Linked DNA regions of Homo sapiens. The protein of the gene in region 3 interacts with the protein of the main gene of each other region in a pairwise test. Each region holds a gene or a part of one and is shown on either strand. Other genes may lie near its edges.

Region 1 (7,257 bases), on a different chromosome or scaffold from region 3:
GACCATGGGACTAAACCTGTAGTCTCTCCTCACTTACATCTGCATGGTTCAGGCCCTCTCCTCCATATACACCATCACGTCTTCAAAACAAGTAGCCTCTAAATAAAAGTGTGTTTCTGCCATATCTAGGGTATATCTATAAATACCATGTGCTACCTGGACATTTTCTGTTCCAATCTAGTGGCACAGTGCATGCCTGCCTCTGCAAGCCCATTGACACCGTTTCTAACTGTCTTTTTTCATTTGGAAATATCAGTGGTCACCTGCTCAGCCACCAGTTACCGCAAAGGGAGAACATACCCCACGTTCCCTATACTTGATCCTATCTCAGTGATCCCGTTGCAATCAGGCATGACAAAGCTAAAATGTGACAAAGTGAAAGGAAATCTGTAAATCATGGTCTTACTCACGTAAAGGCATCAGGAGAGAGTTTTTTGCAATGCTCATTACGTTAGAGTGCAAACATCCTCATCTCCTTCTCCACTGAGGGTGAATAATCACTGTTTATCTGTGTACAGGCAAAGCCAGGGCATGGGATTATGGGGATACGGCCTTGCTTCAGACCACAGACATTCTGCATCCACATAACCTCACCCACGTGTGACTTCTTGAGAGGCAAAGCTTCAAGTCATCCCTTTAACATAATGTGTGACAGAGCTCACTATCTTCCCTAGAGCCCCCCCCAACACCTTAGCTCTTGTCTATTTCTAGTCACTAGAAACAACACTGTATTTCAAGGATACAACCCCTCCCCAATCAAACTGCCAAATCTTTGAACTGAGACTCAGTGCCATATATATATTTTTGAGGACCATGCTTCCTGGATTTTCTAGCAAGGTTGATTTCAAATATTCTGACTTACAAATCACTAAAATAATATTGAGGTTAAAATAAGATCACCACATAGATATATAACTTTATTCACTGTTTGACATCACTGCCCTCAATACTACAAAGATATCAAAACAGGGGTAGCTTTCTGGACCACTGACTACTACAGTGTGTGTTCTATCCATTGCAGGAAAGTCCCACCATGCCAGTGAAAGCTGTAATACACATTTATCTATTCTCTAATGTCTGAAAATGTCACACCAACTGCCTTATAGACCAGATAGTTTATATAAGAACATTATTAGTGTCAATGCTGACTTACACTCTACAATCTCATCTGTGGTCCTGGTGGCATACACACAGATAACATTAGTGTGAGTGACGTGTTTGTGTATTAACACAGACCTTGAGGGTGACTTTGTTCCAGTCTACCTTGCAGGCACTATAAGTGATCGGCTCCTGCTTACTCCACAGACACTGTGAGTGACCCAGCCCCTGTCTACACTAGAGCTGTTGGTCACCTGTTTGTCTACACCACTGACACTTGAGTAATGCTGCTCCCGTTGAACCCAAGACCCTACGAGTGACTCCATTCCTGTCCATACCACATAGCGACTGACCTCTCCAGACACCACAAATGACGTATTCCTGTCTATCCCACAGACACCACGTGTAACGTGGCCACGGAACCTCAGACAGACCGCGTTAAGGGCACTGATACACTCTCAGGACCTCTAATATATGAACACTCTTCTCTCTATTGAGAATCACTATATTCTGTTGATGAGAGGGATTCCTTTGCACTCCTCCTGATTTCTCTCTCCTCCCCACTAGGACCATGACATACATTCCTCCTGCATATCAGTCTCACCCAGAACTGACACGCCCTCATCCCATCTTCCCAGCTCCCCAGGACTCCTTCACTAGCCATGGCTTCACTTTTAGGCCCACAGATTGGTTAACAAATGACACCCATTTTGCTAAGGCCTATGCCAGGAACTTCTTCATGCTCCAAATGTGGATAAAACAAGACGTCTGAGACAGAGGCCACATCAAGAGCTTTTTAGCTGGAGCTGGGACCTCTGGATTAGGCCCAAGATGCAAGGCCAGACAGTGGAGTGCAGTAGGGGAGCAAGCTAGGGAGGAAGCTCGAAAGGAAAACCACCCTCTCTCATCTGTTTGACACACCCTTCTCTCTCAACCAGACAAGAGTCCTGGCCAGAGTTCACTTCTAGGTAGACAGGAGGGCAAATCTGTCTTTGGAACCCAAGATCCAGGAAGGGAAGAAAGGGACTGAGATCTGGAAATGACGTAGTATCACAACTGGCTCTCCTCCGGTAGTCTTGCCGGAAGGCAACTGCAAAAGATGCTCAGGGGTTCTAGAGCTCTGCGTCCGCATTCTAGCACCCCAACGCCTACCTCAGCCCCCAACTCTAAATAACTTCTTTCCACCTTGCTAAGAATGCAACGTTGTGATTCACATCAAGCTTTAGGAGGCTCCCCATATGTAGGGAACTGGGGTGAGGGGCAGGGCAGGATTCACTGTTCCAGGTTACGGAGCTTTGGTTAACACGGAGAGAAGCTACACATAGACTCACACAGTATGCAAATACCTATGGAGATACATAAGGAAAGGCCCCGGCCTGGTTAAGGAAAAGGAGCCGATAAAACCTCTCCAGGTAAGGAACAGCCTAGAAAGGGAATCTCAGTTATTCCTTCTGATATGGCTTAGCTTTCCCCAGGGCGCCTACTTTGAAGAAAGAGCCCTGATTATTGGCCCGGGGAACGTCTGGGGGCAGGGTGCCCATTTCCTAGGCGGGACCCGACCGGAAGCAAACTTGTAGGCAACAACATTTCCTCTAGTTCCTCTCCTCTTCCCCACCAGGGTCCTCAGCCACACACCCCGAGCCCTGCCTGCGGGCCCAGCCCCCCCATTTCCGGAGCCTGCGCCCCGGACCCAGCGGGGGCTGATCCCTGGGAAAGGCCTGGCTTCCTCTTCCTTCCTGTCCCTGCCCCACCTCCGCCGGGCTCCACAGCCGCCGGGAGCCCAGGGCCGAGACGGGAGGAGGGCACCCACCTGGTCGGTGTCACATGCTGCTTCGGCCCCAGCGTCCCCTCCAGGTCCCGGCGCCGGCCGCAGTCCCCAGAGCCGTCCCCAGCGCAGGCCCGGCCGCCCCACCCGCGGCCCGCCCCTGGCCGCCCGACGGGAGGGAGGGATCGGGTTCTCCTAGGAAGTTTCAGGTGAGGAAACAGGGACACACCTTCCCGGAGGAGGGGCAGGGCCCCTCCGCGCGCGAGCCCCATTGGTGTGAAAGAAGCTCCCGCGTCAGAGCTGGGAAGTGCCGGGCCGGCGGGGAGGGGAGCCCGGGCGCACGGGCCAGGCCGCGGGCTGTCCCAGGGAGCCCCGAGGGCGCGGTGCGCGGGCGCAGGTCGGGCGCAGGCGGGGTGACCCGGGGAAGGGGCGCGCACAGAGACAGAGGGAGCCAGCCGGGCCCCACGGTGTCCTCGGACGCCTCCGAAATCTCCCTGCGTGTTTGTTTCTTCGGAGCTTCACCGGAGCCTGACTCTGGAACCGGCCTGTCTGCCTGCTGCAGTCTGTATGTGTTTGTCTTTTGCCTTGGCCGTGCCTCTGGAAGTCTGACATCCGTGGTTGTACATGTGTCTTTATCTTCAGGCCTCATTGGTTTTTGGTTTGTTCGTTGTTGTTGTTGTTGTTGTTGATGTTGTTGTTGTTGTTGTTGTTGTTGTTGTTTCTGAGACGGAGTCTCGCCCTGTTGCCCAGGCTGGAGTGCAATGGCGCGATCTCGGCTCACTGCAACCTCCGTCTCCGGGTTCAAGAGATTCTCCTGCCTCAGCCTCCCGAGTAGCTGGGATTACAGGTCCGCGCCACCATGCCCGGCTAATTTTTGTATTTTTTAGTAGAGGCCGGGTTTCGCCATGTTGGCCAGGCTGGTCTGGAAACTCCTGACCTCAGGTGATGCACCCGCCTCGGCCTCCCAAAGTGCTGGGATTACAGGCGTGAGCCACCGCGCCCGGCCAAGGCCTCAGTGTTGATTTCTCTTCCGTGATGTCTCCTCCTATAGAATAAAGAGTGTCTCCTCCATCTCCTCCTCCGCCCCCTTCTTCGTTTCTCTCTCTCTCTCCCTCCCTCCTCCCCCCTCCCTGTCCCTCTCCCTGCCTCTTCCTCTCCCCTCTTCCTTCTCCTACTTAGGGCCTAGAAGTGTGCCTCTCTGAAAGGACATGCCCGTGTCCTTCTGTATTCCCGAGTTTATTTTAGAATGAGTGCGTATCTCAGGGTGTATGTTCCTTCTAGGGCCTGTGTGTGTGTGTGTGTGTGTGTGTGTGTGTGTGTATTTAAATCTCTAAGCCCATGTTTGTGTGTTTTCTTATGCCTGTATTTTTTTTTTTATTCTTTCAGGGAAACGTTGTGTTCTGTTAGTCTTGGAGGCCAAGGCTGAGTGGGTTTATCTCTGTGCCCCTCCAGTGACTTCAAAGAATGCCAAAAGTCTCTCGAGTGTGCCTGTGTGCACACACAGACACACACAAAGTAGGAATCCTTTACCTGGGGGACAGAGATTTCTGTTATTTTTGGTTGAATCTGACCACTCCCCAAAGCCATTCACTACTCCAGGGGTTTCCATGGTGACATAAGTCAAGTGAAATATTAATGGACTCCTTGCCTATTTTGCTCTTAGGAATGCCATGGTCTACAGCCCAAACAGCTTGGCTAGACCATTTCCAGATCACTGTGCCCATTGGCTGTTGCCAATGATCCTGGTTGAACGTGTTCACTAGTTATTTTGAGGTGGCTGTAGAATAGAATGTAATTAAGGAAGTATAGCCTCTTCTGTAATAGAGTCCTGAACAGCTTTATGTTAAAAAAGTGTGCTACTTCTGCCATGTTACTCTGAAGGATTAAGTCTTAAACAGTTCAGCAGTTTTCAGCCTACTCTAAGCTGCCATGGAGTGTATGGGAAACTATAGGAAAAATTGGGATTAAGACTCAAAAATCTGGATTAAGAAGGGCAGGCCTTGCATGTGTCCTAGGCTCAGCAAAAGGGTAAGAACTGGGAGTACAGAAAGGCAAAAAGTTCAAACTGGGACTGGCTCTACTTCTAGGCTGGAATACAAAACTCATTCCCAGGTATGAGAGGGTCCTTGATTTATACCGAGTGAGCAAAGTGAGTAAACTTCTGATCTAGGGCAGAAGCTGTTGACCTCTGGGTCGGGTGCGGTGACTCACAACTGTAATCCCAGCACATTGGGAGGCCTTGGCCGGTGGATCACCTGAGTTCAGGAATTTGAGGCCAGCCTGGCCAAACATGGCGAAACCCCTTCTCTACTGAAAATACAAAAATTAGCTGGGCTTGGTGGTGGGCACGTATTCCCAGCTACTTGGGAGGCTGAGGCAGGAGAATTGCTTGAACCCAGGAGGCAGAGGCTGCAGTGAGCTGAGATTGCACCACTGCACTCCAGCCTGGGTGACAGAGTGAGACTCTGTCTAAAAAATACAAAAAAAAAAAAAATTGTTGACCTCTGGCATATTTCATGCTGCCTACTGGGGGTGGGCAATGGGGTCAGAGGTACCAGAACTGCCTCCTGAACCAGCCTGGCTATTCTTTCTGCTTCCCTCCAGCTTCAGTTGGTTCTCCTTGATTACAGCGCTCTCTCTCTCTCTCTCTCTCTCTCTCTCTCTTTTCTCATCAACTCGACCTCCTCTTGTTCTGCCAGCTCTGACTTGTCAGCATATTTTTTTTTGAAGTCACAACCCTGGATTCTTGTGCGCTTGTCCAGAGAGTTAGCACACAAGGCTTTTCCTGACTTTTCAACTAGTAGGAAAGTTACAACCGACCATTTAGGGAGTTTGCTCTTCCCATCAAGACTGTTCCTGTCTGCAGGGTGTATTTGCATGTGGAGGTCACTCTAGCTCTCCCAGGTATTCTTCCTTTCACTTTGCAGACTATGGTTCTCAGCATTTTATTATTTTTTTTCTTTTTCATTTCTTACTGCGTGGTCTTGGTGACTGGGTTTCTTAATCAAGCCTGTCATCCCATCCTGAGATTTTGATATTTTATTTGGGCCTATATTTCCTCTATAAAGGCCTAGAGAGGAGAGAGAATGATGCCATGGAAAGAGAATGAGATTTAGATTCAGACAGGGGTAAATTTGAATCCTGCATTCCATTTACTTAATGTGAAATCTTGGGCATATTCACCTTCCTGTGCTTTCTCTGAATCTTCCTACGTTTCATTTCCCTAATGTCTTAATTGGGGATAATAATATGTAATGATACCTACGTCACTGGATTGTTGTGGTGATTCAATACTGTAATATATAGAAATCACCTTAGTATAAGTACCTGATGTGTAAAGGTGGCCAAGATGGGTTAGTTTCCTTTCCTAGCAGTGCCTGTCAGTGATGCATGTGGAATGAATATGTTTATAAGAACAAAGTGATAGGGGCTGGGAACAGTAAATAGATTCAAAATAAAGCTATTTTAAAATGAAAGCCCTATTAGACGAGGCTGAATAAAAATAGCTTCTAGAACTTGGGACTACTTTAATTGACAATAATGCCTTTAAGATCAAGTTATGGGGCTTGGGGAGAGGCAGGGAACAATCTTGTATAGTTCTAGGTATCAGGACTAAAGGAATGACAATGACCTTTTTTGAAGCAGGAACTCATCAGCATTATCCCTAGGGCTGTCATTGTCCTGACTAGATACTGTCATGGTGCCACCATCCCACATGACTGGCTGCATTGTTCCCACGTGGTGAACTCTCTCTGACTCTCAGCTGGTCCAGTGCTAGTTCTTGGAACACTCCTAAGGCCTTTCTGCCTCTGCTTTTTGCCTGATCCTGTGACCCAACATTGAACCTTTCGAACTGATTTTGAACTCAGTTCTTCTTTTTTTTGAGATGGAGTCTCGCTCTGTCGCCAGGCTGGAGTGCAATGGCGTGATCTCGGCTCATGGCTACCTCTGCCTCCTGGGTTCAAGCGTTTCTCCTGCCTCAGCCTCCTGAGTAGCTGGGATGACAGGCATGTGCTGCCACACCCGGCTAATTTTTGTATGTTTAGTAGAGATGGGGTTTCACCATATTGGTCAGGCTGGTCTCGAACTCCTGACCTCATGATCTGCCTGCCTCGGCCTCCCAAAGTGCTGGGATTATAGGCATGAGCCACCGTTCCTGGCCCCAGTTCTTCTGTTAATGGGGCTGACCGTGGTCTCTCCATTCATCTCTGTTGAAGCCAGGCTGGCTTGACCACTGTGGTTCTTAGCTATCTTCTTCTATTCTGTTTTTTTGTTTTATTTTATTTTATTTTATTTTTCAGAGATGGAGTCTTGCTCTGTCCAGCCCAGGCTGGAGTGCAGTGGCACGATCTAGGCTCACTGCAACCTCTGCCTCCTAGGTTCAAGTGATTCTC
Region 2 (7,281 bases), on a different chromosome or scaffold from region 3:
TGCGTTGGTATTGCCACGAGAAGAGGCCGGCACGGCTAAAATACGCTATGACCATAGCCAGGAGATACTGATGGAGAGAAGGGAGTAGAGAGAGAGAAAGGTTGGTCACATCCTGGAAGAGGAAGATGGTGGAGAGAAGGGAACAGGGGCTGGGGCGCGGTTGTCTATCACAGAAGGAACCTCAGTGTTGGGTGACTATGCTCATTGGGGGCTTGCGGGTGGAGAGTGTTCAAAGTCAGCTGCAAATCCGGGAAGTCGGAGGGAGGGAGGTCTGTGATGCTCCCATGATGATGAGCTCCAGTGGGATCACTGGAGGGAGAGTGTCTAGGGCTGCTAATGTCAGGAGGGTCTTGGTGAGCTGGGGCAAAGGACTGTCCCAAAGATCTGAGAGGATAGGGGTCAGGAGTTTCAAGACTGGCCCAGGGCCTGGATTCCAAAGGACCCTGTGCAGAGGCAGGGGCCACCCATCAACTATGCAACAGGCTACCAGAGCCCCGAGGGAGATGCTGACAAATTATGAGAAGACCTAGAATAGCTGGGGGCGGTGACTCACGCCTGGAGTCCCAGCTATTGGAGAGGCCGAGGCGGGAGGATCACTTGAGCCCAGGAGGCTGAGGCTGCAGTGAGCTATGATGGCAACACTGCATTCCAGCCTGGGCAACAGAACGAGACCCTGTTTCTGAAAAAATAAAAATCAAAATGTGGGCGCCCAAGAGTATGGAATCAGCAGGTGGGAGATGGTAGAGGGAGAGAGGAGAGAAACTGTGGGTTTAGACGCTGCACCCTTCCCCAGGACGTGTGTTAAAGCAGGAACACAGTTGAGTGGAGAACAACCTTACCTTGTCTGACACCCTCAGGTCTTTGTCCCAGGCCAGGAATTTTTGAACGACAGGATCCCCTGTGAAAAGAGAGCCTGTGTCAGGGTGAGAAGTGGAACAGGGTTGCCGTGGGAGCAGCAGAGCAGAGAGGAGAACTGTGTCCCTCTGGGGGAAGTCTCAGGATTGTGGCCAAGGCTTAGGTGGATGGGAGAGGAGAGAAGGACTTTCACTGGGCAAGGAGGGAGGCTCCCGCTCTGAGATTCCCCTGAGGAGAGGCCGAAGGAGGCCTCTGGTGTCAGAGTCTACAGGATGAAGAGCTGTGAATAAGCCATGATGTCCTCCCATCAGACAGGAAGGGACCACTGCAGAAGTCATAATAGAATTCCCATCATTGCTTCCTGAGATAGTCACAGCTGGGTGTGCCCATGGCCTTGTTATCCCCCTCCACGGATGGAGACACTTAGGTTTAGAAAAGTCATCAAGAGACATAGAGTTTCAGAGGGTACAGCTGAAACCAAGCTTTCTTTTATCTTTTATTTTATTTTATTTTATTTATTTTATGACAGGGTCTTTCCTTGTCAACCAGGCTGGAGTGCAGTGGTGCAATCATAGCTCATTGCAACTTCAAACTCCTGAGTTCAAGAGATCCTCCCGCCTCAGCCTCCCAAAGCACCAAGATCTCAGGCATGAGCCACTGCACCTGGCCAGAAACCAAGCTTTCTTATTTCAAGTGCAGACCTTTATTAAGACTAGCCTAATCCTCTATCTCCTAAGCATCCTCCTCCTGCATGGAGCGCTCATCCCCCAGGAGGGCATATTCTTCTTATTGGGAAAGTGTGATTATTGAAAGATTCCACTTTTTTAAAAGAACAGGGTTGGAGGTGCTTTTTGGGGTATCCTCCTACCAAGGAGCCTGTTGAAGGCCTCGTGGTGCTCAGGGAGCACGGAGGATGCTCGCTTTCGCTTCAGCTTCATCTTGAGCCCACACAGCGTCTCCACCACCCAGGTGTCCTCGGGCTCAGGGGCGCGCTCCAACTCCAGCTCCTCCTCCAGCTCCTCCTCGGATTCGTCTGACCATTCGCTCTTCCTTTTCAGGCCAAGGGATTGAGGCTGGGGGCTGGGATCTATCCAAGGGGCTGAGTGAAGAAACCAGGCCATGGTGTCATGTTTCTGCCATTGATCACCTTAGACGCCCCGACCCAGGAACCTCAAACTACTCTTCCATCCTCCCAAGCCTCGCAGACTGTCAGCTTCTCCAAGCCATGTTTCCACCTTTCTCCTTTGCTGATCCCCATCTGCCTCTCCCTCACCTCCCCATTCTTCCGGCTCTCTGTCCTCAAAACATTTCCTCATCACAGATAAGAACTTTCAATTGGAGAAAAATGGAAACCTTCCCTTGAGCTCTGTCTGCTCTCTCTCTCTCTCTCTCTTTTTTTTTTTTTTGAGATGGAGTCTCCCTCTTGTTGCCCAGACCGGAGTGCAGTGGCACAATCTTGGTTCACTGCAACCTCCGCCTCCTGGGTTCAAATGATTCTCCTGCCTCAGCCTCTTGAGTAGCTGGGACTACAGGCACGCACCACCATGCCCAACTCACTTTTGTATTTTTGGTAGAGACAGGGTTTCATCGTGTTAACCAGGATGGTCTCGATCTTCTGACCTCGTGATCCGTCCGCCTCGGCCTTCCTCTCTCATCTTTTGAGCACATCTCCTGACCCCCTTCATTGCTCCCCAGACTTTCTTTACACGTGGCCATGCTTGGCCCCATTCCCTGCACCCTCCTTCCCCGATCCCTGGCTTCCTGAGTCCGTCGTTTCTTTCCCACACACCCTACTCAGGTGCTTCAGATTCCCAGTAACTGGCCCCCTTCCCTCTCCTCAGTCAATCATCTCCCATCGCTTCTCCCTCCAGTCACCTCACCTGATGGTCCTGGCACTTCATCATCCACCACCACCTCGGGGGACCGTACCGTTGTGCTAGGCTGGGGGCTCTCCTCCTCAAACGGGGGGCGCGCTTGACCACTGGCCATAATCTCTCCCAAACACTTTGTTTCTGTCCACAAAACCTAGTCCCTGTTCTGTCCAAAGCCTTCTTCCAGACTCCGTTAGGACCCAGAAGAGTGCGTTTCTCTTCTAGAGGCTCGGGAGAAGTTAGGAGTGAAGAGTAGTTCTGAGAAGTTGCTGTTGTCCACCTGAACTCCCAAGCAACCAGAGTCCGGTCCTTCCAATCAGGAAAGTCGGAATCTCTGATGTCATCGGTCATTCCAAACTGGCAACTACTTTGAAGAAAAACACATGTAACTGCCAGACTGATCTCTTTTCTTGGAGATCCGGGGTGAACGGTATCTCCTGGCAATGTCCCAACCTCTGAGCATTGTCCAAAAGCATCCTCAGGGTCTCCACATTCCTCTTTTCCCTGTCCCAGCAGAGGCTGTGTCCTCTCCACTCTAAACTTGAGGGGGTGTTGGGCTCTCCTCCCCGCTTCTCCTTCCCATTTCAGAGTCTAGTCTGGTGAGAGAGGGAGGAAGGTGGAAGGAAATTTAGGGTAAGCAGAATGATGAGTCCTTCCAAGAGTGAGATTAACATATACAGGAGATCCTGGGTAAATTGACTTGTTGAATGGAGACGTTACGTCGAAGTACTCAATGTGGCAAAGCTTTTTTGCTGAATGTTTACTGATATTCACTATCCTGGATCCTATAGTAGGGGAACATGCATCCTTTGCTCTCAGGCATCTTTGAGTCCAAGAGACATTTTGAGGAATGAAAATCACAGGAGACTGTCCATGGTTTCGTACAGATTTTCAATGGTGTCCACAAGTTCAGGGCATCCATGGATCACCTAAAGCCTGCCCTCCAGTTCAGCTAAGGAACTCTGGTCTATATATCAACTATTACAACATATCTATTTCACTTGACCCCAAAATTTGCCTACTATTTATGTATTTTATGAATAAAATATCCTGTGTATAAAAAGACTAAGGGGAAAATCTCAGCCAGGCCCAGGGGCTCCTGCTCATAATCTCCCTCCTTTGGGAGGCCAAGGCAGGGCGTCACTTGAGGTTAGGAGTTCAAGATTAGTCTGGGCAACATAGCAAAACGTCATCTCTACAAAATATAAACAAAGTAATCAGGAATCGTGGCACACACCTGTGGTCCCAGTACTTGGGAGGCTGAGGCAGGAGGATTGCTTCAGCCCAAGTGTTTGAGGCTGCAGTGAGCTATGATTGCACCACTGCACACCAGCCTGGAGGACAGAGTGAGACTCAGTCTCAAAAATATTTTTTTCGGAAAAAATAAAAATGTAAGAGCTGGATACTATCTCAGATACCATCCAAAGAACCTGTGAGTTCTGGCACAGCTTCCTAATGGGCTCCTAGGAGTCTCTCGCTGATGGGAAAGGCACAACTGAATGAGGAGGCAGATCCCGTCGCTGTGGAAGTCCAATTGTTAGGAAACTCTGCTTACATTGAGTGGACCTTCGCATTCACGATGCTTTCAACCATCAGAACTGGTTGGATCCTTTTACAACAAAACAGAAAATCATCTTTCTCTCCTATTTAATAGGCTTTCAAACATTAGAAGATCAATATTCTGTTGCCATTAAAATTTCTCTTCTGTACCACGTAAAGTTCTGATTAATCACTCTTCAAGCCAGTTTTACATATTCCTCTGTCTTCTAGGCACCTTCTGTAGACAGGCTACAATAAGGCAGCCATCTTAAATTATGTCAATACATTGTCCAAAAATGAGCTAAACAGTTCAGGTTTCATCTGATATGTTCAGGGAAAAGCAAAACTATCACTTCTCCCCTTCTCTTTTCCTTCAGTGATGCAGGTTAATACAACAATGGCTGTAGCTATGCACCAAAGATATCATTAGAGTGAAACAGAAGGGCTTTATTGGCTGGCATGGTGGCTCCTGCCTGTCATCCCTACACTTTGGGAGGCCAAGGCTGGAGAATCACTTGAACCCAGGAGTTGGAGATGAGTCTGAGTAACGTTGTGAGACTCCGTCTCTCCAAAAAAATTTAAAATTAGCCTGGTGTGGTGGCACACACCTGTAGTCCCAGCTAGTTCGGAGGCTGAGTTTGGAGGAGAAGAAGTGCTTTGCAAATACCAGCCTTTCAGCCTAAGGATCTCAACTAGGAACATTAAGATACAGATGCCAGGACCCAGCCCCACAGATTCTAATTCCAAAGGACTGAGGTGGGGGCTGATTTAACTTCATCATTGGAGTCCATTCAGATTTGGAACTCTCTGGGTGGGGCAGCGCAATAGAGATCCCAAAGAAAGCAAAATCACTCTCGAATGAAATGAGCAGGAAAGATTTTTTGAGCGAGGTAAGTAAGACCTGGGCCTCACATGGGAGGGCTGTCACCAGGCTTTGTATCCTTGGCTTAGTGGGAACTTTTGAAGCAGCCTCCAAGGCCCCTGTATGCTGGTCGACAAGCCCCCTAACATTGGCTCACAACTGTAATTCCAGCACTTTGGGAGGCCAAGGCAGGAGGATTGCTTGAGCGCAGCAGTGCAAGACCAGCCTGGGCAACTTGGCGAAACCCTGTCTCCACCAAAGTATAAAAAACTAGCCTGGGTGTGGTGGCGCATGCCTGTACTGCCAGCTACTCAGGAGGTTGAAGTGGGAGGATCATTTGAGCCTGGGAGGCGAAGGCTGCAGTGAGGCGAGTTAACGCCACTGCACTCAAGCCTGGGTGACAGAGTGAGACTGCATCTCAATTAAAAGAAGAAACACTAAAAATTTTCACTGAGAATATAAAAGAACTGAATAGAGACTTACAAAATGTCTAAATGATGTTTCAATATGGTAAAACTGTACATTCAATCCAAATGAATTTAGGAATTTAATGCGATTGCAATCAGAATCTCAAAGAGTTTTTCCCCCCGCAGATGTTGACAGAACAATGTAAAAGTTTATCTAGAGAATTGAGTACTTAAGGAACCATCACAAAAGAAGAATGAGAGGGAATGTCCACTGCCAGACACCAAAATGTGTTCTAAGGTGAAAGTGTTAAAACAGCATGTTGCTAGTGTCACTCCGGCAAAATCCTCAAGTGCTCTAAGAGCTTGGGCAAGTATCTTGCTCTAAGATAGCCCTGACTTTGTGAGCTGCCTAAAGGCATGAAAATCCACAATTTTCAAAGACACTTCTGACCAAAACCAAAACAAGACCAAACACAAATCTGGATCTGGAGGCCTGAAACGGGTTACAGGGTCCCAGTTTATGATCCTTGATACAATCAAGAGAATAGAAAGTTCAGAATAAACCCAAGTTTCTATAGGAATGCATTAAATGCTGTCATGGCATATCCCAGTGGGGAAAGTAGAGATTAAGCCACAAATCATGCGATCACAACTAGCTCATTATTTGGAAAACAGACATATACAAATCAAATTCCAGGTGGATTTATTTAAATGGGAAATTAAATGTTCAATGTGAAAATTCATTCTGTAGCAGGATATCCAATGGAAAGGATACTTTTCTGTTTTTTGCCACTGGTGAGAGAGCTGCCAGAACACAGCCTTCATCCTCAGAAGTCACAAGGCTCACACATCATATCTGAGCCTCTGAAGACTTTACCAGTCTAATTCACAAGTTTAAATTCCAACCCAAAATGTAGAGTCTTCATTTCCCTGCTCCTCAGTGCTGTGAACTGAATCTGTGCCCCCAAAATTCATATGTTGAAACCCTATATTAGTCCGTTTTCACGCTGCTGATAAACACATACCCAAGACTAGGAAGAGAAAGAGGTTTAAATTGGACCCACAGTTCCACATGCCTGGGGAGGTTTCAGAATCATGGCAGGAGGTGAAAGGCACTTCTTACGTGGCGGCGGCAAGAGAAAATGAAAGGGAAGCAAAAGCGGAAACCCCTGATAAACCCTTCAGATCTCCTGAGACTTATTCACTATCAGGAGAATAGCATGGGAAAGACCGGCCCCCACGACTCAGTTACCTCCCCCTGGGTCCCTCCCATGACATGTGGGAATTTTGTGAGATACAATTCAAGTTGAGATTAGAATGGGAACACAGAAAAACCATATCAAACCGTAATCTCCAACGTAATGGTACTTGGATATTCAGCCTTTGGGAGGTAATTAGCTCCTAAGGGTGGTGTCCTCACGATGGGTTTAGTGCCCTCTCTCTTAGAAAAGAAAGAGCTTGCTTTCTCTCTCTTTGCTGTCTGCCATGTGAGGGAGCAATAGGATGACAGCCATCTGCAAACCAGCAAGCTGAACTTCAGCAGACACTGCCTCTCCAGGCACCCTGATCTTGGACTTCCCAGCCTCCAGAACTGTGAGAAAGAAATGTTTAAGATTCCCAGTCTATGGTAATTTGTTAGAGCAGCCCAGACTGACTAAGACACTCACCAATATAGTATGTTATCAATCTCTTAAACTTTTGCCAGTCTGATAGGTGAACTTATACATCTGTATACAGCCATTTTTTC
Region 3 (6,953 bases):
TTTTTTTGGAGACAAAGTCTTGCTCTGTTGCCCAGGCTGGAGTGCAATGGCGTGATTTCTGCTCACTGCAACCTCCGCCTCCCCGGTTTAACTAATTCTTCTGCCTCAGCCTTGCAAGTAGCTGGGATTACAGATGTGTGCCACCACTCCTGGCTAATTTTTGTATTTTTAGTAGAGACAGGGTTTCACCATATTGGCCAGGCTGGTCTCGAACTCCTGACCTCAGGTGATCCACCTGCCTCAGCCTCCCAAAGTGCTGAGATTACAGGTGTGAGCCACCATGCCCGGCCTGAAATGTTCTTTTGAGGATAACACCTTCTCATCCTTGATATTCCTTCCTCAGGAGCAGCCTTTACCACCACCATGTCATCCTAATTCAGGTCAGTTCCCCCTGTTATAAGCAATAATGGCTCTGTGACTATTTCATAGCATCTGTCATAAGTGGAATTATTATATATATATATATATATATGGTGTATTTTCTTAACGTCTGTAACCCCTACTACTGGGTAAGCCCCAGAAGGACAAAAACCACATCTATTATTCCCAGTGCATAGCACAGAGCACTGCACATAGAAGATATTCCATACATATTTGTGGAATATAAACTAAGCTACGAATGCTAAGTATTTTGTGCTTTACAGATATTATTTCATTTAATCTTCATTATTACCCCAGTAAGTAGGGAAGATTAACGTAATTGTCGTAAGAAGGAAACTTATCTGTAAAACTCTTAACTACTAACACTGACTGCCTCTCCTTTGGGGCCTATATTTCACTCCTAAACAGAAAGACAAAGTTATCCTGCAATAAGATCAGGAAGCTCACTACCGCAGTTGCTGCTGTAGTATCCCTGGTACCATGAACATGAGTGAATACCTCCACTTCAGAATCTATATGAGGATGACAGGGACAATATAAGAAGTTCTTTTTTTTTTTTTTTTTTTTGAGATGGAGCTTCACTCTTGTCGCCCAGGCTGGAGTGCAATGGCGCAATCTCGGCTCACTGCAATTCCCAGGTTCAAGTGATTTTCCTGCCTCAGCCTCCCGAGTAGCTGGGATTACAGGCAAGTGCCACCAAGCCCAGCTACTTTTTTATATTTTTAGTAGAGACTAGGTTTCACCATGTTGGCCAGGCTGTTCTCGAACTCCTGACCTCAGGTGATCCACCTGCCTTGGCCTCCCAAAATGTTGGGATTACAGGCATGAGCCACGGCACCCGGCCAGAAGTTCTTGCTGGCAAAGTTACAAGGGCAAAAAAGTGACAAGAAGCTATGCAGAACACGTTGGGATATTTTTTAAAACAGGCAAAAAGAGAGTTATCTTTGTGCTCATTGGGGCAAAGTCTAACACAGCAGGATCAGCTCCTTAAAGTCAGTGTCCCAAGGCTACCCATTTTACCACTAGCCAAGGTTTAGTTCAGGCAGCTTAGACCCCAAGCCAGGGAGAGAACAAGGAACAACCCTGCAGTTAACCAAACTCACCAACACAGGAAGCTAGCTAAGGAATGAGGAAAGACTGTCCTGGGCTCAAAAGGTCCCAACTCTCATTCTCCAGGCTTCAGTCCTGTCCTGTTACTCTCAGGAATCTGGCACCTCCTGCGGAAAGCTTAGGAAAGCTTAGGGCATGCTAAGTGTGGCCACTGCCCCTCTGGGAAACCCCTCCAAGCTCAAGGCAGTCACTGCCTGTTCAGCTCTACAGAATCTGGAAAAGGCCCCAAGAGTCTGTGTGTAATTTCCTTCCAAGGCCCCAGCCCCCAGCAGCTGGGCCCCAGAGCTGACCAGGTGTGGCCTCCCCCTGTATTCTAGCCACAGGGCTGCTGTAGGGAAACCGTGAAAATACAGAATGGCTTCTTACCACTAAAGCTGAGTTCCCGCAGCTTTTCCAATGCAATTGAGGGCTCCTTCAGGACATCCTGGAAATCTGCAATTCTGGAAGGGGAGATAGGGCGGCAAATGAAGCATGCTGATATCGGCTCAGTGAGACCCACAGCCCTCAGCTCCCTCACACTGCCAGTTTCCAACCTGTGCCTCTCTCCCCTTTAGGACATAAAAATCACACAGCTTAGTCAAGGTCCTCACCAAAGACAGCTTTGGAGAACAACAAAACTATATTTCACTTCTTCCTCTACAACCAGAAACACAGAATGCCAGGGAAGAAACTTGAGAGATATTCTTGTCTAGAAGTTCCCAAATGAGGACCATAAAATTAGACATATTCCAACATTCTAATACTTAGTGAGCTGACATTTACTGGGCACTTCCTGCCGGCCAGGCCGGGTCCACGCACAGCCACCAACTGAACTCCTTGGACCTCAGGAACCAGGAGTAATTTGATATGCAGACAATGGACCATGCTCACAAATATAACCATTACAAGACCTCTGGGCCTGCCAGAAGGCAAGGACAAAGGGTTTAAAAAACACGTCCTGAAGGAAAACTGAAGAGTGAGCAAAATTCAGCCAATGCTGCAGGATCTGGCCTGGGGGAGGGGCCAGACTGGAGAATGCAAGTTCTCTAGCAATCCTAGTAAGAAAAAGGCACGGGGGACAGGGTGCACTTGGAGAGAGTACGGGAGCAGGGGGATCAAAAGGGGGAAAGGCACGGGGGCGGGGCATGGGGGTCTGGATGAGGAAGACTCAGGGGAAGGGGGACACCAGGGGTCCAGGATGAGGGAGGCAGAAGCAGTGACATCAGGGGCAGGAGAAGGGCCGCCCCTCCGTCGTTCCTGCAGCCCACAGGCAATGAGGTTAGAAGGTGGACGCTCGAGACCCTCTGCCGAGGGGGTCTGCCGATTCCTGGCCACACCCGCGCTTCCCCCTTCTGAGGGGCAGAAGGGGCAGCCTGGCCAGGAGTGGCCCAGCCGGGTCAGGCCCCATGGCCCCTTACCGGCTCTTGTGCAGACTTGACATGGTGTTGACTTCCGGACCCCCCAGCCGCCTCCGCCGCCTGCGCCTCTGCCGCCTGCGCTGCCGCCGCCGCCGCCGCCCCCCAGGGACGCGGGGCTCTGCGCAAAAGCCTCCGGCGGGAAACACAGCCACTAGCCTGCGCGTTCCACCGCCTCAGCCCCGCCCCGCCCCGCCAGTCACGTGCCACCCCTCGACTCTCACGCTTCCACACGGTACTGGCGGCTACGGCCGGCCGGGTTGAGCGGGGCAACCTCGGGTCTGGTGGGCGTGGCAATCGCGGGCCGGGAGCCCCAGCGCCGCCGACCCTGCGGGCCAAATTTGAGAACCCGCCGGTGACAGCGCAGACTGTGTGTCTCTGGACTATTCCTTGCGCTTCCCTGGGCCTCAGTGTCTACTTACGCAATATACCTGTCACCCTGTCGTCTTCCCTGCACTCACCCCCCTGTAATTAACTACTGCATGATTGTTACAGGAGTCTCGGCCTCCCCTGCTAAACTGTTCAGGCCCCCCAGCTTATCTTGGTCTCTGCAGAATCCTCAAGGCCTGTATAGCAGGGACTCGCATGAACCGCCGTGCGCGGCCCAACTTTTTTTTTTTTTATAAAAACTATACCAGCAAACCCTATAAAATGTAAGTTAGGAAGAAAGAAAAAAACACAAATGATATCTTAAGAAAAATAGGCTGGACCGGGCGCGGTGGCTCATCCCTGTAAATTCCAGTGCTTTGGGAGGACGAGGCAGGCAGACCACTTGAGGTCAGGAGTTGGAGACCACTCTGGCCAACACGGTGAAACCCCGTCTCTACCAAAAATGCAAAAATTAGCCGGGCGTGGTGGCAGGCGCCTGTAATCCCAGCTCCTCGAGATTACCTTCTTTACAAAAGATGTAAAAATTAGTTGAGTAGGCCGGGCGTGGTGGCTCACGCCTGTAATCCCAGCACTTTGGGAGGCTGAAGCGGGCAGATCACCAGGTCAGGAATTTGAGAACAGCCTAACCAACATGGTGAAACCTCGTCTCTACTAAAAATACAAAAATTAGCCGGGTGTGGTGACGCACAACTGTAATCCCAGCTACTCAGGAAGCTGAGGCAGGAGAATTGCTTGAACCCGGGAGGCGGAGCTTGCAGTGAGCCGAGATAGTGCCACCGCACTCCAATAGCGCCACCGCACTCCAACCTGGGCAAAAACGCAAGACCCTGTCAAAAAAAAAAAAAAAAGAAAAGAAAAGAAAAGAAACTGCTTAAAGATTTTCCGAAATGGTTGTATTATTTAACACCTTTTTCTTGAGAAAAAAAAAAAAAGAAAGAAACAGCTAGCCAGGCGCGGTGGCTCACGCCTGTAATCCCAGCACTTTGGGAGGCCAAGGAGGGCGGATCATGAGGTCAGGAGATCGAGACCATCCTGTCTAACACGGTGAAACCCCATCTCTACTAAAAAATACAAAGAAAAAAATTAGCCGGGCGTGGTGGTGGGTGCCTGTAGTCCCAGCTACTCGGGAGGCTGAGGCAGGAGAATGGCATGAACCTGGGAGGCAGAGCTTGCAGTGAGTGGAGATTGCACGACTGCACTCCAGCCTGGGCGAAAGAGCGACACTCTATCTCAAAAAAAAAAAAAGAAAAAGAAAAAGAAAAGAAAGTGCTTAAATATTTTCCAAAATGGTTGTATTATTTAACACCTACCCCAGCAGTATATGAGAGTTGCTGTTGTACCACGTCCTCACCAATACTTGATGTGGTCAGTCTTTTTAATCTTAGACATTCTAGTAGATGTGAAGTGGTATCTCCTGCTTTAACATGCATTTCCCTAAAGACATATGATGTTGAGCATCTCTTCACACGTTTGCTATGCATATATACTCTTCTTTCTTTTTTTTGAGACATGGTCTCACTCTGTCACCCCAGGCTGGAGTGCAGTGGCGCAATCTCAGTTCACTGCAACCTCTGCCTACTGAGTAGCTGGGACTACAGGCGCATGCCACCATGCCCAGCTGATTTTTGTATTTTGAGGTAGAGATAGGGTTTCATCATGTTGGCCAGGCTGGTCTCAAACTCCTGACCTCAAGTGTCTGCCCACCTCAGGCCTCCCAAAGTGCTGGGATTACAGGCATGAGCTACCATGCCTGGCCTTCTTTTTTTTTTTTCTTGAGACGGAATCTCACTCTTGTTGCCGAGGCTGGAGTGCAATGGGGTGATCTCCAGCTCACGGCAACCTCTGCCTCCCGGGTTCAAGCGATTCTTCTGCCTCAGCCTCCCGAGTAGCTAGGATTAAAGGTTCATGCCACCCTGCCTGGCTAATTTTTATATTTTTTGATTTAAAAAAAATTTTGTATTTTTAGTAGAGACGGGTTTTCATCATGTTGGCCAGGCTGGCCTCAAACTCCTGACCTCAGGTTATTCTCCCTCCTCGGCCTCCCAAAATCCTGGGATTACAGGCGTGAGATACCATGCCTGGCAGCACCTGGCCTTCTAATTTTTTTTTTTTTTTGAGATGGAGTCTGGCTCTGTTGCCCAGGCTGGAGTGCAGTGGTGCAATCTCCACTCACCACAACCTCCGCCTCCTGAGTTCAAGCAATTCTCCTACCTCAGCCTCCCAAGTAGCTGGGATTATAGGCGCGCGCCAGTATGCCTGGCTAATTTTTGTAGTTTTAGTAGAGACGGGTTTCTCCATGTTGGCCAGGCTGGTCTTGAACTCCTGACCTCAGGCGATCTGCCCACCTTTGCCTCCCAAAGTGCTGAGATGACAGTCATGAGCCACCATGCCTGTCCCTATTGCCCGTTCTTTATTGTACTTTTTTTTTTTTTTTTTTTTTGAGACAGTCTCTCTGTTCTTGGCTGGGCTGGAGTGCAATGGCGCAATCTTGGCTCACAGCAACCTCTGCCTCCAGCAATTATCCTGCCTCAGCCTCCCAAGTAGCTGAGATTACAGGCGCCCACCACCACACCTGGCTAATTTTTGTATTTTAGCAGAGACGGGGTTTCACCATGTTGGCCAGGCTGGTCTCGAACTCCTGACATCAGGTGATCTACCCACCTCGGGCTCCCAAAGTGTTGGGATTACAGGCGTGCATCACCATGCCAAGCCTATTGTACTTTTTTTTTTTTTTTTTTTGATACGGAGTCTTACTCTGTCACCAGGCTAGAGTGCAGTGGCGCAATCTCGGCTCACTGCAACCTCCGCCTCCCGGGTTAAAGTGCTTCTCCTGCCTCAGCCTCCTAAGTAGCTGGGATTACAGGTGCCTGCTACCACACCCGGCTAGTTTTTGTATTTTTAGTACAGACGGGGTTTCACGATGTTAGCCAGGATGGTCTTGATCTCCTGACCTCGTGATCTGTTGTCCTCGGCCTCCCAAAGTGCAGAGATTACAGGCTTAAGGCTCCACGCCTGGCCTATTGTACATTTTTAAATCCCCACCACCACATTTTTCCCCCCCTCCCCAGGATGAGGTCTTGTTCTGTCCCCAGGCTGGAGTGCAGAGATTGCAGTGAGCCGAGATCATGCCACTGCACTCCAGGCTAGGCAACAGAGTGAGACCCTGTCTTAAAAAAAAAAGAAAAAAAAAAAAAAAGAGACAGTTATAATTGCTGACAAGGATGTGGAGAGATAGGAACCCACACATGTGCTGGAGGGAATGTAAAATGGTGCAGCTGCTATGGAAAATAGTATGACAGTTCCTCAAAAAGCTAAACATAGAATTACCCTATGACTCAGCACTTCCATTCCTAGGCATTGAAAGCATGGACAGGGCCAGGTGCAGTGGCTCTTGCTTGTAATCGCAGCACTCTGGGAGGCCAAGGCAGGAGGATTGCTTGAGGCAGGAATTCCAGACCAGCCTGGGCAACATAATGAGACCCCCGTCTCTGTAAAAAATCTTAAAATTTATCCAGGCATGGTGGCACACACCTGGTGTCCCAGCTACTCAGGAGGCTAAGGTGGGAGGATCACTTGAGCCTGGGAGGTTGGAGGCTGCAGTGAGCCATGATGATCAATCCACTGCACTCCAGCCTGGGTGACAGAGTGAGAAAAAAAAAAAAGAGAGAGAGAGAGAGA

Evidence for each region.
Region 1: the proteins of TBC1D13 (region 3) and ARHGEF5 interact in binary tests that used the Homo sapiens proteins (3 or more experiments, as listed by UniProt).
Region 2: the proteins of TBC1D13 (region 3) and SPDYE4 interact in binary tests that used the Homo sapiens proteins (3 or more experiments, as listed by UniProt).

What each region holds. Positions count from the first base shown.
Region 1 is NC_000007.14:144,351,153-144,358,409, reverse strand, and holds the start of ARHGEF5 (rho guanine nucleotide exchange factor 5), read right to left. Parts: upstream 3,009-7,257; 5' UTR 2,909-3,008; exon of another isoform or gene 2,692-2,908; intron 1-2,691. UniProt on the Homo sapiens protein: Guanine nucleotide exchange factor which activates Rho GTPases. Strongly activates RHOA. Also strongly activates RHOB, weakly activates RHOC and RHOG and shows no effect on RHOD, RHOV, RHOQ or RAC1.
Region 2 is NC_000017.11:8,755,539-8,762,819, forward strand, and holds the start of SPDYE4 (speedy protein E4), read right to left. Parts: upstream 3,009-7,281; 5' UTR 2,845-3,008; coding exon 2,736-2,844; intron 1,955-2,735; coding exon 1,724-1,954; intron 899-1,723; coding exon 840-898; intron 68-839; coding exon 1-67.
Region 3 is NC_000009.12:128,783,312-128,790,264, reverse strand, and holds the start of TBC1D13 (TBC1 domain family member 13), read right to left. Parts: upstream 3,013-6,953; 5' UTR 2,912-3,012; coding exon 2,889-2,911; intron 1,932-2,888; coding exon 1,858-1,931; intron 1-1,857. UniProt on the Homo sapiens protein: Acts as a GTPase-activating protein for RAB35. Together with RAB35 may be involved in regulation of insulin-induced glucose transporter SLC2A4/GLUT4 translocation to the plasma membrane in adipocytes.